Linked DNA regions of Homo sapiens: region 1 is linked to region 2. Evidence: fine-mapped expression QTL. Tissue or cell type: whole blood. Region 2 holds a variant in brackets; the other region holds the start of a gene. All regions are shown on one strand. Distances are between the middles of the regions.

Evidence for each region. PIP is the estimated chance that this variant, and not a neighbour inherited with it, causes the effect.
Region 1: it holds the start of NFKBIZ, and the variant in region 2 is fine-mapped to the expression of NFKBIZ in whole blood (TOPMed, PIP above 0.99).

What each region holds. Positions count from the first base shown.
Region 1 is chr3:101,842,344-101,858,421 of GRCh38, reverse strand. It overlaps NFKBIZ (NFKB inhibitor zeta), which reads right to left and starts at 8,908. Exons shown (of 12, transcript NM_031419.4): 1 at 8,505-8,908; 2 at 6,198-6,337; 3 at 5,654-5,684; 4 at 5,433-5,536; 5 at 4,559-5,331; 6 at 3,739-3,844; 7 at 3,214-3,360; 8 at 2,964-3,027; 9 at 2,520-2,689; 10 at 1,239-1,349; 11 at 963-1,130. The coding sequence starts at 8,793. RefSeq lists silencers at 9,010-9,181, 8,230-9,429, 15,503-15,797 and enhancers at 8,923-9,217, 9,012-9,849, 11,308-11,437.
Region 2 is chr3:101,880,672-101,896,749 of GRCh38, reverse strand. No RefSeq gene overlaps it. Among named protein-coding and RNA genes, the nearest start is that of NFKBIZ, 39 kb to the right of the region's middle. The variant A/G (reference allele first, on the strand shown) is at 7,236.

The DNA of each region.
Region 1 (16,078 bases), 38 kb after region 2:
ATGGTTCTGGTCCTTGGAACCTCTCTGAATATCAATTTTCTCAGTTGAAACTTGAAACTTGTAAAGTTCTTCTAACTATTAAATGATATACATGAAAACTTTTTACAAACTATAGAAATATTCTTTCTAAATTACAAAGAGCTCTATAAATAGGGGCTACTATAACATTATGGTCATAATGACAGCTCAGAATCAAAGAAAAAGCTAAACTGCATTCCACGTATTTTATTTTGTGATTAGTAAAGTATGTAATGACCTACCCACAGCCACAATCCCCCTCATTCCTCCCAGGAAAAGAGTTCCATCAAAAACATTTTAAGTTCTTGAAAGAATAAGTTCTTGTTATCTAAAAAGTTTACTCATGAAACTATTCAATACTCAATGATAATATATAACCATATTTGATGAGTAAAGCATTAAATATGCTGTTTAAAACAAAATATTTCTAGGTTTGAAATTACATAAGTAATTTTTCCATTTTTTGTTCAGTATCACTTCATAGACAGAAATAATTCTAACTATTGATGTTCACTGATCTCTTACTCTGTACCCGGGACTATTGTGAGCACTCCACATGTAACAACTCATTTAATATCCACAATATTTGAAGGCTCATACATTACAAGACTAAGATTCTCTTTCCTTGGTATCTGCAGGAACCTTGGTATCTTCTCTTTCCGAACCTTAAACCATTCTGACTTACTCTAACCCTAAGTGTGTGTCACAGAATACTACCTGACCTCTAACCATTTTGAGTCTATGGATAATCCCTCAAATTTCTTAATTGCTGTTTCCAAACGAAGAGTAACTCCACAATGCTATGACAGCTACCGTGAGACACAGACACTGATAGAGTCCACCTGAAGAGCAACAGCTGGCCTTCGCCCTGCACAGCCTCATCTCCCTTTCTGTTTCAGACTGCAGTGCCAAAAAATACTTCCTCTCCCTCCTGTGCCTCTCACCTGTTCTCCCACAGGGCCATCGGGAACCAAATGCACTGGCTGTTCGTTCTCCAAGTTCCGAGTACTTGGGTCTGCTCCCTTCCTCATCAACAGGCGGACAGCATCTAATTGTGTCAACCGATACTGCAAGCTGGCAGCAACATGGAGGGCAGTGTTGCCATTGTAAGCCTGAAGACAAAGAAATGAATTATCAGACATCAGGAAGGGGGAAATTTCATGAAAGGAGCTCAAAAACTTTGAGAGGGTGTACAGAAGGCCATTCCAACTCTGGTGTACCTTTGCATTCACAAAAGACAGGCAACTGGGCAGCTCCAAAAAGAGGCGAATGAGTTCCAGATTTGCTTCTTCAGCTGCCAAATGCAGGGCTGTGCGGCCACTTTTGCGATCCTTGTCAAAGGCAAGAGGGAGGAAAAAAAAAAAAAAAAATCCAGATACTATGCCTCAGAATACACTTTTCACCCAGTCTCCTGAATGTCTGATTCAGCTTCAGAGACTCACTTTGAATGCTCCCTTCTCCAAAATGCCTTGCTTAATCCCAAGCTAAATGGAATCTTTTATTCCTCTTAAATTTCCTATTAATTTGTCTATATGCCTCTTGTCACAATGTACCTTTTTATACAGGGTGGCCATAAAATGTAGAAAAATAAATATTTTTAAATCCTATGTCATAACCTATCAGTAAACCATTTATTATGTATTCACCTACATTTCCAGATTTGGTAGCCTCCCTGTAGAGTTATATTTAGCTATATCTCTCACCTATTTTACTAGTCAGTAAGCCTCAAGGGTCCAAATGGTTTATGACTTAGGCATTTTTCCCCCATATACTCAGTGAATAAAACCAAAATTTTAAAAGAATAAACTATTTTCCAGCTTAAAAACCAGAAGATGAATTCCACATCCTACAACAATGAAGAAATCCTTACAAAAAGCACCTTTATTCTCAGTGTATGAAAATGGAAGCCAAAATGACAATATCAATTTCAAGCATTTTCTTTACCTTTCAAAGACTATTTATTTTATACCTAAATGACCTTTTGGATAATAATTCATGGATTTAAAGCAAATCAAGAAAACACATGAAATGATCTGTTAAAATCTGGGCTTCTTGGCCGGGCGCGGTGGCTCACGCCTGTAATCCCAGCACTTCGGGAGGCCGAGGCGGGCAGATCACGAGGTCAGGAGATCGAGACCATCCTGGCTAACATGGTGAAACCCCGTCTCTACTAAAAATACAAAAAATTAGCTGGGTGTGGTGGTAGGCACCTGTAGTCCCAGCTACTGGGCAGGCTGAGGCAGGAGAATCGCTTGAACCAGGGAGTCGGAGGTTGCAGTGAGCCAAGATCGCACCACTGCATTCCAGCCTGGGCGACACAGTGAGACTCTGTCTCAAAAAAAAAAAAAATTCTGGGCTTCTTAACCACCCATACATTGCTACTCACACCATTAATTTCAGAAAAAAAAGAAAGAAGTTTGAATCTGTACTTGGAAGCAAGGTCTTTTGCTATATAACCAGTTTCTCCCCTACCCCATCTTAAACCTTTTCTGTGAATTTACCTTCGCTTCCACCGCTGCTCCCATTTGAATTAGGCACTTAATGGTATCAACCAGACTCTTATTCTTCAGTAAAAGCTCCTGAACTTCAGGTGAATGAGGCTGTTGATTTCTCTGGAGTTCATGGACCACAGCATTGTGGGCTATGACTGCACAGTGAAGGGGAGTCAGGCCTAGAAGAAAAGTATAATCAAGCAGTGGTCAAGCATCCCATCAGGTCTTTTGGTCCTTCTATAATGACAAATGCTGAGGATGGCCTCTAACTTAACCTATAAATGGGCTCCACAAGAACTAGTAAGGCAATCTGAATATTGTCTCTTTTTGGGTCTAATTTTACCTACAGAATATTTTAGCTTTAATTACCTTCCTTCTTAGTATACTTAGCACCCTTAGACCTTATGGTTCCCCCTAAGTGGCTCTGAATCTAATAAAGTTTCAGTTGCTTACCATCATAGTTAGTTGCCTCAAGATCCACAAACTGATTACTTCCCACTGCTCCCTTCTGAATCGCCTGCAGATTTTAAAAACAGACATCTGTTAGCTACATAAGCTGCGCATATACCTATTAGAATCCCCAAGAAATGAATAAGTTAACTCAAAATAGATCATTGCAACAGGCAACCTATATCCGACTTCTAATATCCAACTCTATCTCTCTGGCCTTGCAATGATGGAAGCCTGGTTTGCTGCCTCTTACCTGAAGCACCTGGGAGTGGCCCTTCTCAGCACACACATGCAGAGGTGTTCTTCCCCAGCAGTCTGTGGTGTTCACCTGTGCCCCGATGTTCACCAGATCCTGCACAATGAGATGCTGATTGGCAGCCACTGCCACCTGAAAGGCACTCTGTGGATATCCAGAGGAAAAAAGATATTTTAAACATACAATGTTATCATAACAAGGAATATGAAACTAAACTATGACTGAGGGAAAAACCCACAGAGAGAAAATAAATCCTTTGAATAAGCAATCAGATACTGTAAGACAAGGAAACTAAAGTAAGCCTAGGGTGTGGCTTTATTACTCTCAGTGTTTGGTCAAACAGCTACAAAGTTAACATTAATAACTTCAAGGTTGATGGTAGCAAAAAGTCAACATCTCAAAGTTAATATTAACTAAACTCTCTTGATCTTGAGCTCTAAGATGATCTACACATAAGGCTGGTCATCATTCACTTCACCATGACCCCCTCTTTGCCATTTCAGACTCTGTCAAGGTCCTCACCTGTCCATTGTGCTCTTTAATATCCAGCATGTGAAGTGCATTCATCTTTCTTGCAAGAACATAGGAAAGTGCCCTTCTCCCTTGGGCAACAGCAATATGAAGGAACCTGGGGAACATGGAAAGGAAAGCGGGTGAATCACTTCTGATTTCACTAAGTTGTTCTTTTGAAAAAAAAAAAAAAATCTTCCTTTAGCCCCCTTTTTATATATTGGTACACTCAAATGAAACATTACAAAGCATAATTTGTCTTTTCTGCTACATTGATAATACACCCCAGTTGGAACAGGATGGGTTAGGCTATCAGAAATAAGAAAAAGAAGAATGTCAAGCACCATACTGATCAACTTAAATCTATTATTTTTAATACTCATAAAACCCCTATACAAGAGGTATTATCATTTTACACGTCAAGGAACTGAGACCTAAGGAGGTTAAATAACTTGCCCAAGGCCACAAAGACATCAGGACAGATTAAGATCAATCTACAAACCAACTCACAGTTTATCCCTAATCATGATCTAACTGTTTCTGTTCTATAGACATAGTCTACGCTGGTCTTCCAAACTCAATTAATCAAGAAGATACAGATATTTTTATCAATTTAGAACAGATTATCTGTTCAGCCAAAAAATTTTTTGAAGGAAAACCCTTTCTTGACATACTAGCTATCACTGAGTGGCGGTTTCTATCTACACCAGTCATCTTGGTTAGCCAACCACTAACTAAGGTATACCTTGTTATACCCTAGAAAAATTATATGCTCACTAGTCCAACAAGTGTGGCTTACCTAATTAAGAACATGAGATAAAAGAATACTCACGTGTCACCATCTGCATCCTTTGAAAGAAACTGGTCTTGGGAAATATTTGCCAATTTGCTTTCTTCCTGCTCCACCTGCCACTGAAAAAGTGATTTCCCTAACTGTGTGGTGTTCATTGGATTTCCCATGTTTGAGAATGGCAGTGAAGTGTTTGAAGAGTCAGAGGCCATCTCGTGCCCCACCATGGCCTCACAGGCGCTGCTGGGCATCATGCTGAAGCTGTGCAAGTGAGCATCATTTTGCTGCTGAACACTGGAGGAAGTCTGCATGGGATTAGCAATATTCTCAGATTCCCTTTGATCACCAAGAAGGGAAACTAAGCTTTGGTTTGGGCAAAACTGTGATTCTGGACCATCAAAGAGGTTTGGTTCATAAGCGGGGGACTGGGGAGGTATGGGAAAAGGACTGTATTCCAGAGTTGGTTTGTGGGTGTAGTGTGGCTGCTGCTCTACATGCTGGTTCTGTGGAGAATACTGGTACAGGGAAGCCTGGTCTATCATTTGTTGGGAGCCCCTGACTTGGAATGGTTGGCATTTCTGAGGTGGAGAAAAGACCTGCCCTCCATGGAAGTCCTGACACTGCTCTGCGGGGGAGCTCTGAGGGACCACCACGGGGTTCAGCCAGCTAACTTGAACTGTGTTCAGGGAAACGGGGCTGCATTCATTCTTAATGTTGATAATGTTCTGAAGCAGATCAGCACTGCTCTCCTGTTTGGGTTCATTGAGATGAACATCTTCCATGCTCTCCCCGGGCGTTGGTGTTTGAGGTGGTGTCTGGAAAGAAGGAAAATGCAACTTGCACACTCACTTCCTTCTAAAATTATCCCAGGAATAATTTCCAAAGGATAGTCAGAGGAAAATGGTGAGATACTTACCAAAAATTGGGAATGCAACAGAGCTGGCCTTTTGCAAGCAGGTCCATCAGACAACGAATCGGGCCCTTTCCTTTTCCCACTGTATGATACTGTGTTCTTCAATTCTGTACCCAAAGGAATACAGCCTCTGTCATCATTTTATTTTATAAATGTTACCCATAATTACACTCTATTATTTACTCCAAAGCCCTGAAAAAATTACAAATACAAGTAACTCTTACCTCTGAACTGTTCTATGTTCACACCTTGTGTCTATAAAGAAAAAAGTTTCCAATTTAGTGTATACAAAATGACTTCCTCTTAATATACATCAGTAAGTAGGCTTATCTCTACCACCCTTTATAGCTTACCATAAATCTCTGATATGGTTTTTCTATCAATATTGATTTTCTATATCAATTTTTATTCTATCTTGCGACTTCCTCATTTTCACTTTCACCTTAGCTCAACGCAGGTCAAGATGAAATTAATAAGACCATTTGATTTTTCCCTTTCTAGTTAAAATGTTCCATTTCAGTTGAGCCTCTGAACTTGCCTTCATTTATTTATTCATTGAGTTTCTCTTGCCCACCTACCAGGTGTCTGGCACTGGGCTAAGGAGGATACAACAGACCAGACAAATATGGTCTCTGTCCTATGGACTTTGTCATCTTATGAAAAATTTCAAGTGACTTACTTGATGACTGGACCTAGGTCATCATAATAACCCTGACAGACTAACCCCTCTCCCCAACTCTATACTCAAAACAGAAAAATAGATGTCACCTTAAAATCATCCACAGCTTGGCCAGAAGCCTTCTGTTTATGACTTCGGATGTGCAACAGGAGTTCCTTCACTGAGTTCTTTACCCGAACACCTTGAAAGGGGCCTCTCTGCTGCCTGCCAACCCCCATATGGGGCTCAACTGTTCAAAAGAAAACAAAACATATTCCTGGTTAAATATCTTCACAGACATAAACGTTAATAATCCCAAAAGTATAGCTGTTGCCTAATGTATAAAGTCCCCAAGCAGCACATTGCAAAACCTTTCCAACTTGCTCTGGTCAATCAATGGCCTTGTGAGTCCCGAGCTCTGCTCAAAGGTCCTAAGTTGCCTGATACCTTTCTCCACTGGGTACCCTAAGAAATTAAAGTTCATAAAAATTTGGTCAAGGATCCTCAGAGCCAATAGGTAAACCCAAATTAAGCCTCTCTATCTCTCAGCTCTAACCACCCATGAGAGTGGATCACATTTTTTTCTCAGCCCTAACCACCCATGAGAATGGATGACAGATTTTGCCATCCTGACTCTCATAGTTCTATAATTATTCTTGACTTTGGAAAAACTTTGGGGAGCAAGTGATAAATGATGCACTTTTAGCTTTTTAAACCAATGGTTTTATGTTCACATAGAAATTTTAAAGTCTATCAATTCCGCTTACCTAAGAAGGCACAAAACAACTTCTTTCAAAGATCTCTATGTACGAAAACCTGACAATTAACAACGTCTTAGATTTATGTCTTATTATTTCCTTCAATTCAACTGTGCCAAAAAAGCTGCTTAAATTCACTGAGCTTAAACACATTTCTACATATGCACACAGGATTTCCCCTCATTGACTGTTTTTGGAATTACTTACACAGGTCTTCTAAGTAAAAAGGAAATATGCTTGTTTCACTTTTAAACTTTGAAATACACTTTAGCATTTGGTATACAAGTACAGTACTCCACTTCTGATCACTATTATGTCACAACCTCTTAGTATGTGTGTTGAACACAAATTCACAAAGTCAGGAAATGAATAATTCAGCCGCTCCATCAAGTGTACAAAAATAAGATGGGGCAAGAAACAACGCATAATTTGAACATCTGTATCTATCATAAATACATGAGATAAACAGTTCAATGATAGGGTAAGTGAAACATTAGTTGGCTTTATTTTTAAGTTTAGGGATTTCAAGAGATACCAGAATTGCCAGAATCTAACACAGCATTTTTCTGGAATGACAGCAGTTCATAATCCAACGTCACAGAAAGAAAAAAATGCAGTTTCAGAAATCCCCTGTGGCTGTGTGGTAAACCAAGGGACCAGCAGAACAGTTTCAGCCAGATGAAGGCCAAGTGGGTAAGAAAAGGTCCTAAACACATATTCTTTCTGGATCTGCTACGCAGTGGTTTAAATCGCTTTTCGCATGATTTTAAATGACTTAAAATGAAAATGAGATATCACTTTTTAAAATAAATGACAACCAAAACAGGAGTGGCTAAGAGTGGGAAACACCGGAAAGAGACGTTCTTTAAAATCATGCTAATTACTCTCAACGTTCAATTATCGAGGCGTTTTTCTAGCCTACCCACAGGGGCATCCTGTTTTCCCCCAAATTATGCAACTCGGTTCACTAAGAAAGGAAACCAATTCGCAGCCCATGAAAGATAACATTACGTCTTTCTCTGCTAGATATGGCTTATCCATTTTTTTTAAGGCACACACAACAAAAACAAGACCGCAAAAATTCCGGGCAGACTTCCGAAACTCGCCAAACTAAAGGCATAACTTGAGTTGGTTTTCAGCCCGGCTTCACCTTGATAACAGCAGTTTCCTTTTCTTTGACGGTCAAGTCTTTTTACTGAAAAATTCCATAAAAACTGAGAAATAAGTCATGACCTTTAACGCTATTCCCAAACCCTTATCCTCTGCTACAGCTTTCCACTAAAATATTCACAAGAAGAAAATTACACCTACATCAGACCCCAAATCTCATCATAGTTTATTAATTATGACTCAACAAAGCTGCTTCTTAGAGAGCGAGCGATCTCCTGGTCACTCGCCCGGCAGTCAGAGCTCGGCCGAGCGGTTTCTGAAGCCCCCCCGAGGCCCGCGGGAGGGAGCCGGTTCCGCGGGCCGGCGAAGGGCGTGTAGGTCAGGCAGGCGCCCGGCCCGGGCAAGGCGGGGAGTGGTAATTGATGGCTAAGGTGCGTACGTCCTAGCTCTAAGGAGGGCGCAGGGGCCACCCTCCATCTGGGGAGTCCCGCTCCCAACCTCCTAGGCGTGCGCGCCCCGAGTACGCAGCGGTGCGGGGCCGGCGGGTACCTGGCTGGCGCTCGGCGCGGGCGCCGCCTCTCGACCGGGACTCCACGGCGCCGCAGGAGGACACCGACGAGGCAGAGGAGAAGTCGGAGGAGTCGGAGCCGGGCGAGCCGGGCGCCGAGGGGCCCAAGACCGAGCAGCTGGCGTCGCAGGCGCCCGGGGCGGCGGCGGGCGGCGACGCGCCGTAGAAGTAGCTCAGGTTGAGCGGGCTGGTCATGAGGCCGCAGCCGCCCGCCGCGTCCCGCAGCCCCTCTCCGCCGCGGCTGTCGTCCAGCAGCTTGTCCACAATCATGCTCCCAGGCTGGGCGCTCGAGGACCCCGACACCTGCGCCACCGGCTCGCTGCGCGCGGCTGCCTCCCGGGCTGGCTCAGGGAGCTGTCGGCGGGCGGACGGCGCGGGCCAGTACGGGCGCGGCGCGGGACTGCCAGGGTATTTAACGGGCCGCAGCGCTCGCCGACCTCCCCGGCGCCCGGCCCGGCCATTGGCGGTGCCCGGGCCGCCTCCCAGCCCCTCCTCCGGATGCGTCCGATTTCCAGTAAAATGTACAGGATGAGGCAATGCGCCCTCCGCCCTCCGCCCTCGCCCCGCCCGCCCGGCTCCGCCCAGACCGACCGGTTGTTTGCCTGCCCTTCACCGGGAAACCCCGACAGCGCGCGGCTTCCAGCCTCCCGCTTCCCGCCTCCCGCCTCCCGCCTCCCGCCTCCGGGACCCCGTCCCTCGCCCGGGCCATCCCTGCCCTCTAGGCCCCCGCCGGGCCTGGGCGCCCGGGGAGAGGGCGCGCGGCGCAGGGCTGGGCCTGCAGAGGGAGGCGGGAGTCAGTGGAGGGAACCGGTTGGCCTGGTTCTTGGGGACTGGCAAGTCCTGGAAGGAGCGCGCCCCGCACCCCTCTGCCTGCCCCGGCGCGGCGAGCTGTTAGCCCAGTTAAGGCATCTCTGGAAGGTTCTTAAGGGCCTGTCTCCTCCGGCGCCCCAGCGTAGCCTCCCTTCTCAAACATAGCGTTTGTCGACGGTTTTAGGCAACATCCCGAACTGAAAGAGATGTTGGAGCATTTTTATGTTCTCAAATTATCTGCTGGGACGCAAATAATGTTTTAGGTGCAGCCATGAATAAAAAGTAATGCCACACTTCTGTATCCTTCAATACTAGAACAAAGCCATCTTAGCAAAATAATACACAAACATGTAGGTGCTGTAGTATATGTAGATATAACTTTTAAAATTCTGCATAGCTTTACACTATCTGATAAACTAACACAGTAATTTTGGCCTTTCCTATCTTGAATACTTTTTTCCAATGGATTTATACAACTATTTGTTCAAGTCCAACTAGCAAAAAATGCGGGAATGATAAGGTTAAGTACACACATGCTATGTTTAAATAAACCGATTATGATTAAATAACACGAGGGATACAAAGTTCAGTGAGCCACCTAAAAGGAGAAACAACAGGTCTGGTAGAGGAAAAAGGAGGTCAGGAGGAAAATCTTTGCAGGGGTGGTGGCATTTAAGATAGGTCCTAAAGGATGGGTGGGATTGGGGCCCACAGCATTTACAGAAAGAACAAGAGCAAAGAATTAAGGAGAGGGTTCATATTAGAGTGTATAGTCCCCTTTTACGATTGTCAAGAGGAGAAGATGGCATTAAATATAAAAGATAACTTGGTGCCTTTGGGTGGAGCACCTCCAGCAGCTGAGACACTGGAATTTTATTTAATAAACATTGAGAAAACATGAATTTTAGGTAGGCAAAATTAATCTGCAAGCAGTTGAGAGAAGATGAGGAGCCCAGAGGCCATTAGGATCCACTGCAGTAGCCCAGGAGAGAAATGACTGGGCACTGGGGCAGATACAGTGGGAAAGGAGAAAGTAAATTGACAGAAAGCAGAGCTGGGCAGCATTGCTAGGGCAGAACCCACAGGTCTCGCTCTTTTGGAGGGGGGGAGAAATGAAAGGGTCCCCAGTCAGGCCATGGCTTGGAGCCACGACCAGGTGAACAGGGCCACCAGCTCCAGATCACAAGGGATCACAGAGCAGAATGTTTGGGTTTTAGGACGAAGGGGGGGACACGATGAGTTTGGATTGTTACTCAGTATTAGTAGGTGGCATAAGACCCTGGTGGGGGTAGGTCCAAAGTAAATACAGCCATACCCCACAAAATGATGTTTAAGTCAATAATGAACTCCATGTACAATGGTGGTCCTGTAAGACTGTAATACCATATTTTTACTGTTTCTTTTCTATGTTTCCATATGTTTAGATAGACAAATACCTCTGTGTTACAGTTGCCTACAGTATTCAGTACAGTAACATGCTGTGCAGGTTTATAGACCAGGAGCAATAGACTATACCACAGAGCCTAGGTGACTAGCAGGCTAGACTATCTAGGTTTGTGCAAGTGCATTCCATAATGTTCAAACAACGACAAAATCACTTAACGACACATTTCTCAGAATGTAGCATCGTTAAGCAATGCATGACTGTATTTCCTTGTTTCTCACAAGTGTATTTCCCTAAAACTTCTTGCTGCCTCTCCCTCCAACTTTTTGATAACTTTAAAAAATAAAAAAGAAAACAAATCCCTTGGTTTATCTGTGGAAAACACAAGACTTCAGTAATTGCAATTCCTTGGAAACCAAAATCATTTAAAAGATGCTCCAAATAAGATGTTGAGTGTGATGGTTAATTTGATGTGTCAATTCGACTGGATTAAGGCATGCCCAGGCAGCTGGTACAACATCATTTTGGGGTATGTCTGTGAGAGTGTTTCTGGCAGATATTTGCATTTGAATCAGTAGACAGAGTAAAGTAAGATCCCCCTTCGCCAATGCGGGCAGGCATTCTGCAATCCACTGAGGGCCAGAATAGAACAAAAAGCCTGAAGCTATCTTCTTGAGCTGGGACATCCATCCTTTCCTACCCTTAGACATCAGCACTCCTGGTTCTTGGGCCTTCAGACTCTGACTAGGACTTACACCACCAGCTCACCTGGTTCTCAGGCCTTCAGGCTTGACCTAGAACTGCATCACCAGCTCTTCTGGTTCTTCAGCTTATGGATGGCAGATGGTGGGACTTGTTGGCCTGCATAATTGTGTGAGCCAATCCTTCATAATAAATCTCTTTCTACATATTTATATGTACCCTATTGGTTCTGTTTCTCTGGAGAACCCTAATACATTAGAGTTTCTCAATAAAATCTATTTGAATTTTGTTTTCTACCCACCAATATTTTATGTATAATAAAGGATTTAAATGCCCATTCAAATAAATCCGTAGAAAGTAATTTTTTACAAAATTAATTATCCTCCTGTTTTAATTAATTATCTTCCCATTTTACATGAGATATGAAAATTCAAGCCACAAATTCATGGCCTCTGGAGAACTTAATCTAGACCAAGATGGTCAACAAAAGACTAATGTTTCAAAACGAAGTTTTCTGTGCAATGCCAAAGCAATAGTACTGTTTGACAAGACCACAACCCCCAATGCCCAGAAGCCCTCCCATACACATCAAAAACAGTTAATATCGCTACAAAAAAATTTAAATGTACTTTGCTTTATGTAAATGTTGAAATACAAATTCAGTTTGATCTATTAAGTCGAATGATAGGATGCTGCCATTGTTCTAATCAAATATGGTTGAACACTCATGCTGTGGGAGACAGCCACCATGTTACGAGGACACTGTCTGGAAAAGTCAACTGAGGCCAACAGCCAGCACCAATATGCCCGCCATGTGAGTGAGCTACTTTGAAAGTAGATTCTCCAGCTGCACATCGGGCCTTCAGATGACTGCAGCTCTGGCCAACATCTTGACTATAGTCTTACGAGACACTTTGAACCAGAACCCTCAAAAACACTCAAGAGATTTCTGATGCACAAAAACTGTATACGAAATATGGGGCCTTGAGAATTTGTCCAGTTACACTGCTCCATCGAAAGCAAAGAAGAGATTGAAATCTTCATCTAACTGACTCTGAAGCCTCATCTTTTGCTTTAAAAAACGAGATTAGAGGATTCATTTACTCCAGGCTCAGAGGTACTGTCTACATCTAAAGATACTGAAAAAGATGAAATGATACATCAGAGAGTTCTGTGACAACTCATAGAGGGGAGAAATCTAATCCAAAGCTACTGGAAGAAACTGTAAAGAAGAAATAAAAATATGAGAACGCTATCTTTCCCCAGGCTTTATAAATGTTAATAATTTACCTTATTGTATCTTATGCAATAGAACATTTTTTAGTTTTATGGTGTCAATTAACATTGTAACACTATCTTGAGACCAATAATCCAGAGTTTCAAAAAAGGAATTGAGGGCTGGGCTGGGTGCAGTGGCTCACGCCTGTAATCCCAGCAATTTGGGAGGCCATGGCAGGAAGTATTGCTTGAGCCCAGAAGTTCAAGACCAGTCTGGGCAATATAATGAGACCCCATCTCTACATAAAATAAAAAATTTAAAAATTAGCTGGGCATGGTGGCACATGCCTGTGGTCCCAGCTACTTGGGAGGCCGAAGTGGGAGGATCACTTGAGCCCAAGAAGTCAAGGCTGCAGTAGGCTATGATCATACAACTGCACTCCAGCCTGGGTGACAGAGCAAGACCTTGTCTCAAAAAAAAAAAAAAAAAGGAATTGGATTTTTTTTTTCTTTTTTTGAGACAGAGTCTCGCTCTGTCACCCAGGCTGGACTGCAGTGGCACGATCTTGGATCACCACAAGCTCCGCCTCCCGGGTTCACGCCATTCTCCTGCCTTAGCCTCCCGAGTAGCTGGGACTACAGGTGCCCGCCACCACGCCCGGCTAATTTTTTGTATTTTTAATAGAGACGGGGTTTCACCGTGTCAGCCAGGATGGTCTCAATCTCCTGATCTCATGATCCCCCACTCCTCAGCCTCCCAAAGTGCTGAGATTACAGGCGTGAGCCACCGTGCCCGGCCAGAATTGGATTTTTAAGTGTAGATGTAATGAACTTTTGAAAAGCCAAAGACAATTTGGAACAGCTTTTCAAACTTGAGATGAAAAAGCCAGTATCTTACAGGATAAGTTATTGTACTGCTTTGGCTGAAGAAATGAACATCATAGGTGAAAGACCAATAAAGCCTGGTAGAGTTTATTTTGCTGAATATTTTCTAGATGAAAAGTCAGCAAAAGAAATCACAGCACTGCCACTTTGCAACAATGCAGCAGCTCACTGAATTAAAGACTTAACTGCAAACTGGTTTTGTCTGCAAAATTGCACTTTTGCCTTAGAAATGGATAGATCTATGGACTGTCTGGACTTGCTATTTCGGTTATATTCATTTCCAGCACCGGCCAGTCATCAAAGGTGTTTTATTTTAATGCATGACAACAAACACAAGGAATGCTGAAACATTCAAAATGTACAATAACTTTTCGAATCTCATCATTTATCCTGAAACAATTGTGTTTACATTTGAAATGATGGTACAAAAGCAATGGGTATAACTAATGGTGCCTTAAAACAAATCAAGGCAGCAGCAACAAAATGAACTAGTAATCATTGTATTCTTCACCACTGTCTACTTGCAGAAAGAAAAAGAATAAAAGCCAGTTTCACCTAAAAAGTCCTGGATGAAGCAGTAACAATATTAATTGACTCTTGTATACATCATTTTAATATTTTATGTGGCAAGATGGGAAATATGCATAGAAGTTTGTGCTGCATCCTGAAATATGACAATTGTCTCAAGGAAATGCACTTGTCTATTAGCTTGAACAGTATGTCATTGCCATTTGTTCTAATCAAATACTGTTTGAGTTGTGAGCTGAACTGCCCTCTGTTTTTCATGGAACACCAATTATACTTGACTGACAAACTGTTTCAGACTCAGGTATTTGTCAGTTTTTGGTTTGGTTTGGTTTTGTGTTTTAATGAACAAAGTGAGCCTGTCATGTTAAGGAAAATAACAGTATTTGTTGCCAATAATAAAATTCAAGTTTTTCAATAAAAATTACAATTTTGGGAAACTTCTGTTGGACACCTTGAGCTTGATAGCTTCCTAGTTCTAGAAGACTTTTTTGATGAGCCCAGTGATGATGCGCTATTAACAAATGTGATTTTTTTATATTATATAATGAAATGTGGCAACATTTAGAAAATTTGCATAACTCAATTAACTAATAATTTCCAAATGAACAATGCAAGACATTATAAAATCACACATGGGTGAAAGAGCCATTCAAAGTGGCCAATGGATTTTAATGTATCAGAAGATGTGGCCAATGGATTTTAATGCATCAGAAGATAAAAAGTTCATTGATATGGTTTCAGGTTCCATCTTGCATCTCTCCTTTAAGGAACTACCACTTGTTTTGGTATAATATTAAATTAGAATATCCAAATTACCTGAAAAGACTATTAAGCTATTTCTTCCTTTACCAACTACATTTGTGTATGAGACCAGATTTTCTTTATACTTTCACCAACATAAGATATTGTGACACATGTTTCTTTTTTAAGAGACAGGGTTTCACTCTGTCACTCAGGCTGGAGTGCAATGGCATGATTATAGCTCATTGTAACCTCTAACTCCTGGGCTCAGTCTCTCCTCCCACCTCAGTCTCCCCAGTAGCTAGGACTACAGGCATGCCCCACCAGGCCTGGCTAATTTTTTTTATTTTTCATGTTTTGTAGAGATGGGGTCTGGCTGTGTTGCCTAGGCTTGTCTGGAACTCCTGGCTTCAAGTGATCCTCCCACCTCAGCCTCCCAAGTCACTAGGATTACAGGCGTAAACCCCTGCACCTGGTCAACTGCAACAAATTAAATGCAGAAGCAAATATGAAAATCTGTCTTCTGTAAAACCGGATGTTAAGAAATTTGCAAAGATGTGAAACAATACTGTTTGCATGAAGTTTTTTTTTTTTTTTTTTTTTTTTTTTTAGAAAATACAGTTTTTAAAAATAAATTAGTAAGTACAGATTTAAATAATTTTTAGGGATCGAATGTAGGCAATGTCCTATCAGTCAACTCAAAAGTTCCAGATTGGACTCATAATTGTTGAACACCTGGTTCTGAAACCCTCCTCTCTTCTCCATCTCTAATTTCCACTATCCAAGACAGGCCTTTATCTCTTACTTGATGCAAATGATCACCCATCCAGCCTTGCCCACTTAAAACCCATCCTCCAGACTGCCATCGGCATACCAATGGAATGCTGGAATGCCAGGAATTCTTCTAAGAATTCCTCCACACCAGGGGTGTTCAATCTTTTGGCTTCCCTGGGCCACACTGGAAGAAGAATTGTCTTGGGCCACACATAAAATACACTAACACTAATGGCAGCTGAAGAGCTAAAAAAAAAAAAAAAAGAAAAGAAAAGAAAATGAAAAAAGAAAAAGAAAAAACATCACAAAAGAATCTCATAATGTTTTAAGAGAGTTTATGAATTTGTGTTGGGCCACATTCAAAGCCATCCTGGGCCACATGCAGCCCATGGGCCACAGGTTGGACAAGCTTGCTCTACACTATTTAAAAATCCTTCAGTGGCTCTCTACTGCTTTTAGCATGGAGTCCAGTCTTCTTAGAATGACAGATGTCCAAGTCCTGCCTTCCTCACA
Region 2 (16,078 bases):
GGTTGGGAAAAAGGGTCTTTTCAGGATGATGAAACTATTCTAAAATTGGGTTGTGATGATAGCAGCACAACTCTGTAAATTTACTAAAAATGATTGAATCGTACAGTTCAAATGGCAGATTTTTATGGTGTGTAAATTATACCTCAATAAAGCTATTAAAAAGAATACATACATCAAATAAAAAGCAAAGTCAGCAAATACTAACATCAAACAAAATTAGATTTGAGAGAATGCTTGAATTTAAAACTAATTTTCTGACAGTCAAGGCAAAAGGCAAAGACATTCATGAGGCTATATAACATTGTTTTTGTTTTAAAAAATTAAAAAGAAAGAAAGAAAAAAGCATTCCTGTAATCCCAGCTACTTAGGAGGCTGAGGCAGTAGGACAATTTGAGCTCAGGAATCCAAGACCAGGATAATTTGAGCTCAGAAATTTGAGACCAGCCTAGGCAACATAGTGAGACTCCATCTCAATTTTTTTTTTAAAAAAAGGCTAAATGTTTATGTTCTCACTCATAAATGGGAGCCAAGCCATGAGGATGCAAAGGCATAAGAATGACACAGTGGACTTCGGGGACTCAGAAGTAAGAGTGGGAAGGGGGTAGGGGATAAAAGACTACAAGTTAAGTTTAGTGTATATTGCTCTGGAGATGGGTGCACCAAAATCTCACAAATCTCCACTAAAGAACTTACTCATCTAACCAAATATCACCTGTTCCCCAAAAACCTATGGAAATAAAAATTTTTTAAAAAAAGCTTAATTTTTGTCTTTGGTTGGGTGCAGTGGCTCAGGCCTGTAATCACAGCACTTTGGGAGGCTGAGGAAGGCAGATTGCCTAAGCTTAGGAGTTTGAGACAAGCCTGGGCAACATGGCAAAACCCCATCTCTACAAAAAATACAAAAATTATCTGGGCATGGTGGCATGCGCCTGTGATCCCAGCTACTTGGGGGCTGAGACAGGAGGGTTGCTTGGGCCCAGGTGGTTGAGGCTGCAGTGAGCTCTGTTCATGCCACTTCACTCTGGCTTATGTGAAAAAGTGAGACCCTGTCTAAAAAAAAATTAAAATAAAAATTAAAAAACAAATTTTTTCTTTATCTGTTTCCTGCTGCTATAACAGAATATCACAGACTGGGTAATTTATAAAGAACAAAAGTTTATTTAACTCATGGTTCTGAAGGCTGGTAAGTCCAAAAACATGGTGTCTGGTAAGGGTCATCTCATGGTGAAAGGGAAGAAGACAGAAGTAATTACATTAGACAGAGAGGCATCAAAGGCTGGACTCACTTTATAACAACCTGCTTTGTGATAACTAACTCTCTCTTTTAATAATGACATTAATCCATTGGTTGGAGCCCTCTCATTAAGCCCTACCTCCCTCTCAACACTGTTGCATTGGGTATTAAGTTTCCAACACATGAACTTTTGAGGGAAACTTCAAACTATAGCAACTTTTTTCAGAAACAACTTTTTCTCTGCTTCTGACTTCCACCGAATAAAGAAAAAAAATCTCGTGTTCCAAATATTAGAGAGAGAGTCTGTAAAATTTGAGGGCATGTTGTTAGGTCTTAATTTGGGCACAGAATTTTCTGTTGAGACAGAGCAATAATACACTGCAGAACTGAGTTTAGGGTATAGCAACTCAATACCAGGAAGGAGCTCAGAGAAGCTAAAGAATGAGTGTTTAGCATCTCTTTTTGGCTGTATTTCTCACATAACATTTTTCCCATATGGGCTTTAATAAGTTTTCCATAGAAGACAATCCAAAACTATGTTTACTAATGAGTTCATAATGTTCATACCTGATTGAAAGTATTGGGCTGAAACACCTGTCATGTAGACAGTTAAGGAAAGTAGAGTCCAGTTTATGCTCTTACCCAGGAGTATGGCCTTAAACATAGAATAGGCTAAGAAAATCTACAGGTAAATAAGACTTTTCTCTACAAAGCAACTTTGGATATGTCTCCAAGACACTAACAAGTATGGTGAAGCTCTAAATTTCTGCACCTACAGCGTTAAGAGATACACCTGGCCTGAAGGATTTTTAGGATAGAAGTTAGTTTCCATCTGTACCTGCCAGTTAAGAACTTTCATGTGGATCCTGTGGAGCTATTAATTTGAAGCAGAATTGAATCTCCATGGCTCCGATGGGTGATGCTGGTCCCAAAATACACAGCACCACCCCTGAAATATAACTATACTTATCTATCTGTTTAATAAAGCTCTATTAAACAAGAGTACATTCTAAAAATGGCATGCTTGACACCAAGCTGTTTCTCCTGATAGAAACCAACCATTCAGTGAAGGACCATGTCATCAGCAAAGAGAATAATAGATACCTTCCTGTTTGCTATGGCAAAAGACATAGCATCCGTTTTATCTAAAAATGCTGACCCAAATATTATGAGTTAAAAATAAAGAACTGAGTACAGCCACATTTAATGCTACTTAAAATTGGAATTTACCATGAAGAGCCACTGTATTTTACAGCAGGGACAGTGGCGGAGTCACGGGAGAAAAATAAAAAGCCTTGGACTTAATAAGACCCTACAATATTGCTCTAAATACTTACTGCAAAAATCTTAAAACGCTCTTAATCTCAACAACAAAAAACCTGACTTTAAAAATAAGCAAATGACTTGAATAGACATTTCTTCAAAGAAGATATACTAATAGCCAATAAGCGCAGGAAAAGAAGTTTAATATCACTAAGCATCAGACAAATGTTCATCAAAACCCCAAGATGCTGCCCATTAGGATGGCTACTATCAAAAAATAGAAAAGTGTTGGTGTGGCTGTGAAGAAATTGAAACCCTTGTGTACTGCTGGTAGGAATGTAAAATGGTGCAACCACTGTAGAAAACAGTATGGCAGTTCCTTAAAAAATTAAAAAGTGTTAGGCCAGGCGCAGTGGCTCACGCCTGTAATCCCAGCACTATGGGAGGCCAAGGTGGGCGGCTCACGAGGTCAGGAGATCGAGACCATCCTGGCTAACACGGTGAAACCCCATCTCTACTAAAAACACAAAAAATTAGCCGGGCGTGGTGGCAGGCGCCTGTAGTCCCAGCTACTTGGGAGGCTGAGGCAGGAGAATGGCATGAACCCGGGAGGCGGAGCTTGCAGTGAGCCGAGATAGCATCACTGCACTCCAGCCTGGGCGAGAGTGAGACTCCGTCTCAAAAAAAAAAAAAAAATATTAAAAAATATTACCATACGATCCAGCAATTCCAGCTCTGGGTAGACACCCAAAAGAATTAGCAGAAACTCATACAGATACTTATACATCCACGTTCATAGCAGCATTATTCATAATAGCCAAAAGGTAGGAAGCAACCCAAGTGTTCATCAACAGATGAATGGATAAACAAAATATGGCATATACATCCAATGGAATATTATTCACCTTTAAAAAGGAAGAAGATTCTGACACATGCTACAACATGGAAGAACCTTAAGGACATTATGCTAAGTGAAATCATCCAGTCACAAAAAGACAAATACTGTATAATTCCACTCATATATGGCACCAAGAATCATCAAATTAATACAGACAGAAAGTACATGGTGGCTGCCAGGAGCTAGGGGGAGGGAGAAATTGGGAGTTGTCTAATGGATACAAAGTTTCGGTTTTACAGATGAAAAGAATTCTGGAGATTGGTTGCATACACACACACAAAGTGTGCTACTTATGTATTCATGTAAGGAAAAAAGTGAATATACTTAACACTTCTGAACTGTACACTGAAAAGTGGTTAGGATGGTAAATTTTATGTGCATTTTACCACAATTAAAGATTCTTTAGTGTTCTCAATTTCTCCATTAGATGAATCTTCATGCCAACCAGAAACTGCTGAACTGAGTCCAAAGACTGCCTGATTCTAGCAGGATGTTAAACCAAGTAAGCCAGACCTGTGGCTCATTGAAAGGAAAATCAATATGAAGTTGCCCTTTGGTAGCTGTTGCATACTATATTTTGAATTCATCTTTGATAGCCTTCATCACACCTTTCCCAGGCTTGAGCTTGGAGAAGTGAAGAACAGAAACAGCAAGATGAAGATGAAAGATCACTGGCCCAGAAACCCGGCCCTTCATTATTTATTCATACTCACCATTGAATTTGGTCTTTTATTTTTGAGAAGGCTAGAAATGTTTCGAATGGTATATAATGACTTCCAATACCCTTTATTTATCAGCAAGTCTTGTGGAAGGAAAAGAGCCCTCTGATTACCTATCAATAGTGATACATTATCAGACTTTCAGCATTTATAACAAAAGGCAAAGACACTTAAGGACAGCAGCAGTGGTGGCCAATCAAAGGCGGAGATTCTGACACAATGGAAGGAAAGAAGGAACAATGAACAGACAGAAAACAGAAGGGCTCTGCAGTCTGCAGGAGGCAGGCGAATGCATGAGTGGAGGTAAGGAGTGATGTGAGATGGAGAAAGCCACACAGAGGGAACCAACTGTCTCCCATACTGCCCGCACCTCAGTTCCCAGCAGACATAGCACCTGTCCCCTCTTCTGTGTGTCAGGAGGGAGTGAGAAATGAGGGTGTGCTCAGCTGTGGCCTCATTCTATCTCAATGGTTCCAGAGACCTCAGAGGGCAATGGCTTTACTAAGAAACCCTGCAAATGATCTTACCTCCACTTTACAGTGAATTAGAGGCCATGAGGCAAACAGGTCCTCACATTCCTACCCATGCCCCTGCCTAAACATTTTGCATCCACACCAGGGACTGCTTCTTCCTCTCTGTTACAATGACAGTGAAGTCTCTTCTTTCTTCCTGTCCAAGGCTACTACTTCCATTCCTGTACATTTTCAGGAGCCATGTTACTCCCTCTAGCCTCCTATATTTTCATCCATTCCCTCTCCTTAGCATATACATATATTATACATATATGTATACATATACATGTGTTATACATATATTATACATATATGTATACATATACATGTGTTATACATATATTATACATATGTATACATATACATGTGTTATACATATACATATGTATGCATATACATGTGTTATACATATATTATACATATGTATGCATATACATGTGTTATACATATAGTATACATATATGTGTGCATATACATGTTATACATATATTATACATATATGTGTGCGTATACATATGTTATACATATGTGTGCATATACATATGTTATACATATATGTGTGTGTATACATATGTTATACATATTGTGTGCATATACATGTTATACATATGTGTGTGCATATACATGTTATGCATGTGTGTGCATATACATGTTATACATGTGTGTATATACATATGTTATACATATATGTGTGCATATACATGTGTTATACATATATGTGTGCGTATACGTTATACATATATGTGTGCATATACATGTTATACATATATGTGTGCATGTACATATGTTATACATATATGTGTGCATATACATATGTTATACATATATTATGCATATATGTATACATATACATATGTTATACATATATTATACATATACGTATACATATACATATGTTATACATATATGTATACATATACATATGTTATACGTATACGTATACGTATATTATTTATATATATACACACACACACACACACACTCAGATCTAACCCATTATTGAATAAATACAAAATAAAAAAATTAAAATTCCTGAATCCTGTATCCCTTTTGTTAAAGTTTATGGGAGGCTATTGTTTTGGGCTAGCCTCCTGCACTAGGCCCTGGCAGGCCAGACCAAACCAGAATGAGGTCACTTGTACTAAGTGCCACATAATCAAAGTGAACTTTGAAATGAGCTCATTTTCTAAAAATTAGGAGATTCCAGTCAACCTGAGTCAGTGTAATAAGGAAGTCCCCTCTGTTTTAACCCTATAAGGAAAGTCACTTTGAAACAACCAATCTATTTTTTGTTGTTCATTTCCACTTTCTTCAGCCATTTTCTGCCCATAAAGCCAACCTCCTCTGCTCAGCAAATTGGAACCCTCAGAATGAGGTGTTGCTGATTCTAGAATTGCAAATAAAGCCAATTCAATTTTTAAACTAAATTTATTGTAATTCTGTCTTTTGACATCTTTTAAGACTTTCTGTTGCTTCTCAGCTAGAATTCTAAAATTACTTTTTTTTTTTTCCTTTTTTGAGACAAAGTCCCACTCTGTCACCCAGGCTGGAGTGCAGTGGCACGATCTTAGCTCATTGCAACCTCTGCCTCCTGGGTTCAAGTGATTCTCCTGCCTCAACCTCCTGAGTAGCTGGGATTACAGGCAGGCACCACCATGCCTGACTAATTTTTGTAATTTTAGTAGAGACTTGGTTTCACCACAATGGTCAGGCTGGTGTCGAACTCCTGACCTCGTGATTCGACCGCCTCAGTCTCCCAAAGTGCTGGGATTATAGGCGTGAGCCACTGCGCCTGGCCAGAATTCTGAAAATTTTAGTCCACACTTATCTCTGTTTCCTTATCTCCTCAGCCAAGTGAAATCTCACTGCAGCTGATCTCACTAAGGTCACCAATAATCCACCTGTTGTACAATATGGAGACATTTCAAGTTATTGCATTGTAGGACCAGACCACTTTGACCAGGCCATACTCCTTAAAACGTCTTCTTCCTCCTTTGCTGTCCTTGACTCTGTTCTCTGTTGGTTTTCCTCCTTCCTCAGACTAAGCCCTGTTCAGACTCCAGCAGCTATCATCAGTTCCTCTCCCTGAGGGCCCATATCATCTCTAGTCACAAAATATAGCAATGTGGCACAATGTTAAAACTGAGTAAACCCCCGGGCGCAGTGGCTCACGCCTGTAATCCCAGCTCTTTGGGAGGCAGAGGTGGGTGGATCACCTGAGGTCAGGAGTTTGAGACCAGCCTGGCCAACATGGTGAAACCCTGTCTCTACTAAAAATAAAAAATTAGCCAGGTGTGGTGGCATGCGCCTATAGTCCCAGCTACTCAGGAGGCCGAGGCAGGAGAATTGCTTGAACCTGAGAGACGGTGGTTGTAGTGAGCTGAGATTACGCCATTGCACTCCACCCTGGGCAACAGAGTGAGACTTTGTCTCAAAAAAAAAAAAAAAAGCCTGAGAAAACCTCTAGCAAGACTTTCATAGACTGGTTTATTCAATGCAGTGATGCTGAACCCTGACTGCCCATTAAGTTCACGGAGAACTTTTACAGGGATATAAATACCCCACTTGGTAGTATTTCTGATTTAACTGGTCTTTGGTAAGCCCCAGAT[A/G]ACAGTATTTTCTGAAAGCTTCTCAGTTGAGTGTTAGTGCTCACCAATAACCTTGTCACTCCATGCTGGGACTATAAGGACAGGAAATTTGCAAAATTCATAATTATCATTTTTAGAACTTAACCCTTTAGTTGGATTTTAGGATTCTGAGACAGGGTTTTTTCTTATCTTTTTTATTTTGTCTTTTAGAAACAGAGCCTCACTCTGTGGCTCAGGCTGGAGTGCAATGGTACAGTAATGGCTCACTGCAGACTCAAACTCCCGGGCTCAAGCAATCATCCCACCTCAGGTTTCCAAGATGCTAGGACTAAGGCATAATTTTATGTTTTATAGAGACTGTCTCACTATGTAGTTCATATTGGTCTCAAACTCTCTTGGCCTCACGCAATGCTCCCACCTCGGCCTCGCAGAGTGCTGGGATTACAGACATGAGCCTCAAGCTCGAAGTTTTAAATGTCTCCTTAAAAGTTTACATTAGAAGGTTGTTTAAAATTGGCTCATCTTTGGTCATGCCAGATCTGCAATTACCACAGATTTCTCTCACCTTCACTCAGCCAGAAGCCCATAGAGACCAACCAAGTCATAAATTTTATTGAATGAACACGTGGCCCTGTTGGCTGCAAACACTGGAAATTTTTGTCTTCCTCTCCCTGCAGAGTTTGCCAGGATTCTTGGGAGTGCCTTCCAAGAACCAACAGGCCCTAACCCAGAGGCACTGGCCTTCCCTTCTGCTTCTGCCTTGAAGGTGCAGAGTCTGTTGTGTGCCTGCCTTGCTAGAGAAATTCTGCCTGTTACTGTTTACGAGGGAGGCGTCTCTCACAGGGATGGCATGACCAGAGAAACATATTCACACAGAAGCAGTTTTATTTGTTTCGTGTGTTTAATTATTTGACTGTGGTTGTGGTTTTGGGGGCTTTAGGATGAAAGGGTGGGGAAGGAGTTGGCCAAAGGGGCCTGGAGGATAGGAGCAAAACAACCATAAAAAGCTGTGAGACCCAACCACACTAAGAAACAATTCCAACTGCCTGGCCCACCTTTTCCTCCCATCTTTTGCCATACACATTCACCCACCTACTCACTCATTTTAGAGAGGGAGGAAGAAAGGCCACAAAAAGAGACAATACTTCAAAACTGCATCTTCAATTGCAACCAAACTGTTGTTGCTAAGTCACCTTATAACAAAGGGATGAAGTCTCAAAGATCTGACCCTTTAGTGATTGTGGAAGATTCTGGAAATCTCATGTTGCCAGGAGATAAGAAATTGGATATTCCCTATCCACTAGGTTCTTCTCAGCAAAGCTGCAGAGTCTTACCAGGAAAAACAACAACAAAAAGAATTCCCTTCAAATTTCAAGTCAGGAAAACTCAGGCCTTAATCCGAAGCTCAGGATAGTATAGTGTAGAGTGCTCCAAATTGGGAATGACTTAAGAACTACATTTATGCTACTCTTAGTAAAGACCAGATTCTCCATATTTTACTTATTGGAAGAGCAGGCTAAAGGGAAGGAGGGACAGAGCAACAGTTTGCAAAGGACAGCAAATGCAGTCAATCAAAAAAGTGATGATGGCAAAACATGTGGCACTGGTCCTAGCTTTTGCTGCATTGGTTGCTGTGCTTGTGATTTTAGTGTCATTGTTTGTTCCGCTACTCTACTACAAGGAAATGGTAAAAGTTATTTCATGTAGGAGAGTAGAATTCTGAGTGGTGGGTGACCATTATGAGAAGCAGATTTCAGTTCTGGCTGTCAGAGGGGCTGCTTGGAAAGGCAATGAGATGCCTATGCTATATATATTCATGGTCATCAGGGAAACCACTGCTTAGGATTGTAGGGGAAAATCAAATCAGAGGCACTGGTCTTCAAGATGCCTCTTGGACTAGAGAGTCAATGATTGCAGCAACAGATTACTGAAACTCTCTTTCTACCTCCAGTGATTAACAAATCTACTTCATCTAAATTTTGCTTCCTCATTCCTATTTAACCTTTTAAAATAAAATAAGTTCATGGCAAATTTTAATAATCTATTAAATACTCAGCACAGGGATAGGTTTTCTAAATAATAGAGGAAAATTTACTGTGCTAGAGAGCAAAATGAGAAAGAAAGCTAAAGAAATAGAAAAGTAGGCTGGGCGCAATGGTTCACACATGTAATCCCAACACTTTGGGAGGCCGAGGTGAGAGGATCCCTTGAGGCCAGGAGTTCAAGACCCTAGGCAACATAGTAAGACTCCATCTCTACAAAAAAATAATAATAATTAGCCAGGGGTGGGTGCACGCACCTGCATTCCCAGCTACTCAGGAGGCTGAGGCAGAAGGATTGCTCGAGCCCAGGAGTTTGAGGTTACAGTGAGCTATGATTGAACCGCTGCTCTCCAGCCTAGGCAACAGAGCAAGACCCTGTCACCAAAAAAAAAAAAAAAAAAAAAAAAAAAAATTACATTAAATTAAATTTAAAAAAAGAAGAAACAGGAAAACAATTGAAAAATCAGAAAATTCCAGAACCCCTTGAAAATCTTCCTCTCTCCCTAATGAAGACCATGGGGCCTCCTTGTCTGTAAAGAACCATGACTGTCCCAGCATTCTGCTTGGCTACTCCCTTGCTTGACTCATTTTCACCTAAGGGTAGAGAGGGCAAAATTACAGGGAGGTGTTTGTTGGGTTTCGGCCACACTTTTAAACTTACCTGGGTCACACTCTGTGGGCTTGGAGCCATCTGCCTCTCCTTGGTGATTAACGCAGCTCCACAGAAACCTTCTGTTCTCTGCTCCTCCTCCTACCTGGGGCAAGTACCAATGGTTTTCCGGCTAGAGATGAGAGGGAAGGCCAGTATGAAGAACACTTATCTGTGATTAAAAGGATGGCAAGAAAATGAAGACCTGGTAACTTGCTGTTAGTGGGATCAGTGTAAAGATCCCACTATCACTTTTACTCAAGGATCCCTTGAGTTAAGAATGCCCAGACCTGCAATACCATTCAGGACATAGGCATGGGCAAAGACTTCATATCTAAAACACCAAAAGCAATGGCAACACAAACCAAAATTGACAAATGGGATCTAATTAAACTAAAGAGCTTCTGCACAGCAAAAGAAACTATCATCAGAGTGAACAGGCAACCCACAGAATGGGAGAAAATTTTTGCAATCTACCCATATGACAAAGGGCTAATATCCAGACTCTACAAAGAACTTAAACAAATTTACAAGAAAAAAACAACCCCATCAAAAAGTGGGCAAATGATATGAACAGACACTTCTCAAAAGAAGACATTTATGCAGCCAATGGACATATGAAAAAATGCTCATCATCGCTGGTCATCAGAGAAATGCAAATCAAAACCACAATGAGATACCATCTCATGCCGGTTAGCATGGCGATCATTAAAAAGTCAGGAAACAACAGGTGCTGGAGAGGATGTGGAGAAATTGGAACACTTTTACACTGTTGGTGGGAGTGTAAATTAGTTCAACCATTGTGGAAGACAGGGTGGTGATTCCTCAGGGATCTATAACTAGAAATACCATTTGACCCAGCAATCCCATTACTGGGTATATACTCAAAGGATTATAAATCATGCTACTATAAAGACACATGACACATATGTTTGTTGTGGCACTATTCACAATAGCAAAGACTTGGAACCAACCCAAATGCCCATCAATGATCGACTGGATAAAGAAAATGTGGCACATATACACCATGGAATACTATGCAGCCATAAAAAAGGATGCGTTCATATCCTTTGCAGGGACATGGATGAAGCTGGAAACCATTATTCTCAGCAAAATATCACAAGGACAGAAAACCAAACACCACATGTTCTCACTCATAAGTGGGAGTTGAGCAATGAGAACACATGGATACAGGGCAGGGAACATCACACACCAGGGCCTGTTGCGGGGTAGGGGGCTGGAGGAGGGATAGCATTAGGAGAAATACCTAATGTAAATGATGAGTTGATGGGTGAAGCAAACCAACATAGCACATGTATACCTATGTAACAAACCTGCACATTGTGCATATGTACCCTAGAACTTAAAGTATAATTTAAAAAAAAAAAAAAGAACACCCAGACCTGGACAGCATTATAATGCAAACACCCTGATCAGGTCCCATGTGTTTTTCCTGGGGAAACAGGGACTTGAAATCTTGATCTTCCCAGGCTTCTGTGGACCACAACATCCTCCACACAGACTTCAGGTCTTTCTAAATTATGACCTGATCCTGGTTCTTCCTTGGCTGAGTTATTTCTGGGGATTCTTCTCTCCTACATCCCAATTTCCTTCAAAGTCAATGAGGCCCTCCAAGATCTAGCCCTTGTTCTCTCTCTCTCCCGTCTCATTTCCCACCATGCCAGGTCTCAGACTCTTGCAAATAAGTCAACACAAAATTCTGTTTCATATCTCTGTGCCTTTTGTACATATCTTTCCTCTTTCCTATGTTGGATGTACCTGACAAACCCATACTACCTGAAGGTGTGGTCAATCCTGGGATTTTCCTGAGTTAGACCCTGGGGCAATATGTAAATGAAGCCATGAGGAACAGGCAAGTTCTTGCTCATTTTTATATTGCCATGAGCAATCAACTCACATGTGTAATCAACTCCTCCAGATCTTATTTTTTTGTAGGGAATGAACAAAGCAACACGTCTCAGCCAATGTGGTTAGCCCTCTTTTGCCTAGAGGGAATATGATGGAGGGAGACTTAAGAAGGTGCTTTTCCTTAATGCCATTGAGGAGGACAGTAAAGATTACTTTCTTCTTTGAAGATTCTAGGTAGCAAAGGTCCACACTATTGTAGACCCTTATAGAGTGTGGGACATGGATCTGTTAGAGTTCTACACTAATTACCCCCTTCCTCTCCATCCTTCTTCCTACTTCTCTCCATCTCGCGTCCACCATTTCCACCAAGTTTAGTGTTTTACAGTCACTGGAGTTGGATTAAAGATTTAGCAGAAAGTAATTGTTAATTTAAATATTAATTGCTTCAACCCTTCCTACTAAGGTTACATATAGTTTTTTGATACACTGGAGAAAATATATGTCCTGATCAGGCACACAGTGCTGATATGTTTTCTTTGGAGTCATACGTAAAATGTTTTATATTACAAATTCTATCACTAATTAATTGTTTCTCATATTTGTAGAGTACATACTTTATACTTGAGCATATATTATTACATTTGATCCTTGTATCAGTTTAAAGCCTCATCAGAAATTCTGTCTATTCTGCCTATTAAATCTCTCTCAGACCTGACTCATCCTCCCTTTTTCTTTTTGCCTCTGCCTTACCTTAGGCCTTGATCAATTCTCACCTGGATTTTTATATTAGCATCCTAAACAGCCAGCCAGACCAGCTGGCATCTCGTTTTTCTTTTTCCTCTGTCTCCACTGCCTCCCTCAAAGTCCATTCTCCACTACTACATACCTTTCTAAATTACAGCCCAATCCTGTTACCTCTGTAGTTTAATTATTTTGGAGGTTCCCTTTCACCTACACAAAACCCAAACTCTTTTCCATGGTACACAAGGCTCTCCAATATCTGTTCCTTGCCTGGCTCTAATCTTGTTTCTTACCCTCTAGGCCTCAAATTTTTAGAGTTGACTGAAGACATAATGCTTTCTTATGCATTTATGCCTTTATATATCTTTCCTCTCTGGAATGCCCTTTTGATCTTTGCCTATTTGGTGACACATACTCATCCTTTGACAGAGTAATCTAGTGTCTCCTGTTCTATGAAACTGCCCCCACCACTCAAAGGCAGAACTTACTACTCTCCCCTCTAGTCACAATTTAACCCTATACTTATTTCTATAATGGTACTTATTGCACTGTTTTGAAATAATAGCTTCATTATGTTACTGTCTCCCAGTAAGCTATGAACTCCATGAAAACAAGAAATTTGTAATATTTATCTTTATATGTTTATTGCTTGCACAGCTCATTGCAGTTAATCTATAAATCATTGTTAAGTAAGTGAATGAATGGGGGAAGAAGAAAGATGAATACAGGTCTGTTATTATTATTCCCATTTAACAGGAAAATAAACTGGGCTCAGGGAGATTAGGCCTCTTGCCCAAATTCCACCTCAAGCCCATGGCTCCTGACTTCAGATCCGGGAGTCTTTTCTTCAAACCATCTTCCTCCAGCCAGATGAACACAATAATAGTATACCTGAAATCTACTTGCACTCTGGATTATTCATTTCCTATCTCTGAAACAGGGAAATAAGATCATGCCTAGGACTTACAAATCAAAATTTTGTGATCTATGACCTATATACAAGATAGATCAGTTGCCTATTGCTGCATAACAAAAAACTCCAAAATTTAGTAGCTTAAAACAAAAATCACTTATTTTGCTCATAAATCTATAGCTTGGACAGGACTCAGTGGGAACAGCTTATCTCAGCTCCATGGTTCCTCAGATGGGGCAGCTCACTGGGAGACTTAAGGATACATTTTCAAAATGGCTCCCTTGTATGGCCGGTATGCTGGTGCTGGCTGTCAATTAAGACTTCAGTCAGGACTGTGGGCCAGATTCCCCTCCACACAGTCCTTTTTGCAGGCTACTTAAGCTTCTTTACAGCATGGTGGCTGGTCCCAAGTGCCTCAAGAGAAACAGGCAGAAGCCATATTGCTTTTATGACTTAGCTTCAGGAGTAATGTAGCATCACTTCTGAATCCAGATTTGAGGGTAGGAAATATGGATCCTGCCTCTTTATGGGAAGATTTTCAAAGTCACTTTGTAGGAAGAGCTAGTGAACAAGCAATCTGCCATTATGGATCTCTCTAATGGTATGGAATCAAGAAAAAAAAAAGAAATTTGAATATAGAATATATATGCCAAACAAGTATTATCTTTAAAATATCCTTGAAAAGCTACATTCATTACTCAAAATGTCTTGGGGGGTCCCCTCTGAAATTGTCTTCAGGGCTTGGCATGGTGGCTCATGCTTACAATTTCAGCACTTTGGGAAGCCAAGGCAGGTGGATCACTTGAGCCCAGGAGTTCAAGACCAGCCTGGGCAACATAGTGAGACCTTGTCTCTAGTAAAAAAAAGAAAGAAATTGTCTTCAGGATCAATGCTAAAAACATTGAACACTTACTATATACTAATATAAGTCACTGCTAAAGGCTAGTCATACAAAACTGAAGGCACTTAAACCAAAAACTTAGTAGTTCTAGTAGCTATACTAAAAGATAGAAGTCAACACAAAGTACTATTAGAGCTCAGAGAGATTAACTTACAATTTGGAAAACAGAGAAACTGTCATTATATAGATCTCTAAAGATAAGTAGGAATTCAGCAGGAATGATGAAGGCCACATTAAAACTTCTGCAAAAAGGGGGTAATAAATATAAATCAATGGGAATAAGGAAAGGCTATTCCATAAGGAACAACGTGGGCAAAGGCATCAGGTTGGTACATATTGAAAGTCAAGTAGTTCAATGTAAGCAACCAGAGTTAATGGCACTAGCATAGGAAGTAAGTCTGTAAAGTTAGGTTGAGCTTAATTAGGGAAGGTCTTGATACTTTTATTCTGCAAAGAGGAGGCCTTGGAATCAAAAAACTTCATCCCCAGAGTTCAGATTTTAAAAGTGGACTCTGGCAGCTCTTTATAAAAGAGATTAGAACAACAAGAAATGGGAACTCCTCAGGCAGAATTGCTCAGGCCCTCTGCTCATGTTCTACCACTATTTATGTTACTCAGACTGCTCGTCTACTTCACTTGGTTTCAAATGATGTTAAGCTGTTCTCAAAAAACCAAACCCACTCTAAGGAGCAAAACTTACTACCCTGGAAGGTTTTAAAAAAACAAAACATTCGGCTGGGCGCGGTGGCTCACGCCTGTAATCCCAGCACTTTGGCAGGCCGAAGGGGGCGGATCACAAGGTCAGGAGATCAAGACCATCCTGGCTAACACAGTGAAACCCCATCTCTACTAAAAATACAAAAAAATTAGCCGGGCATGGTGGCAGGCGTAGTCCAGCTACTCGGGAGGCTGAGGCAGGGGAACAGCGTGAACCTAGGAGGCGGAGCTTACAGTGAGCCAAGATCGCACCACTGCACTCCAGCCTGGGCCACAAAGCAAGACTCCGTCTAAAAAAAACAAAACAAAACAAAACAAACAAACAAATAAAACATTCCCAAAAAGTGAAATCCCCGAAGCTGGAAAATCAGAATGTAGAAATATGCTTTCATGTGGAAAGGGGTAGGCTACATTTGGATATATAAGTTCAGGTGTGTTTGTCAAACAGTCATATTACTTTAGAATCGATAGTGGGTATGTATAAAGTGCGTATGAATCTGTGTGTACAGGTATCAACGTGCCAAGAAGAAATAAAAGAGTATGAGGACACTGCGTTAAGTGCTGCAGCTTTTGGAGTTCTTCCCTGGTAACCATGGCCTCTCACACTTCAGATAAAAAGAATATCTGTCATTTGCCAGGCACAGTGACTCACGCCTGGTATCACAGCACTTTGGGAGGCCAAGGTAGGAGGATTGCTTAAGCCCAGGAGTACAAGCCAGCCTGGGCAACATAGCAAGCCCTCCTCTCTACAAACAAAAAAATTAGCTGGGCATGGTAGTGCATGCCCGTAGCCTTGGCTATTCAGGAGGCTGAGATGGGAGGATCACTTGAGCCTGAACCCAGAATGTCAAGGCTGCAGTGAACAGTGATCACGCCACTGCACTCCAGCCTGGGTGACAAAGTGACACCCTGTCTCAAAAAAAAGAGATGGGGGTGTCCATCATTCAACCACCAACCAAAACCAGAGTAACAACTTAACTTTCAAAATAATCATCAAGCACCACAGGGTCTGCCTGCTCCTTTGTTGCCTCC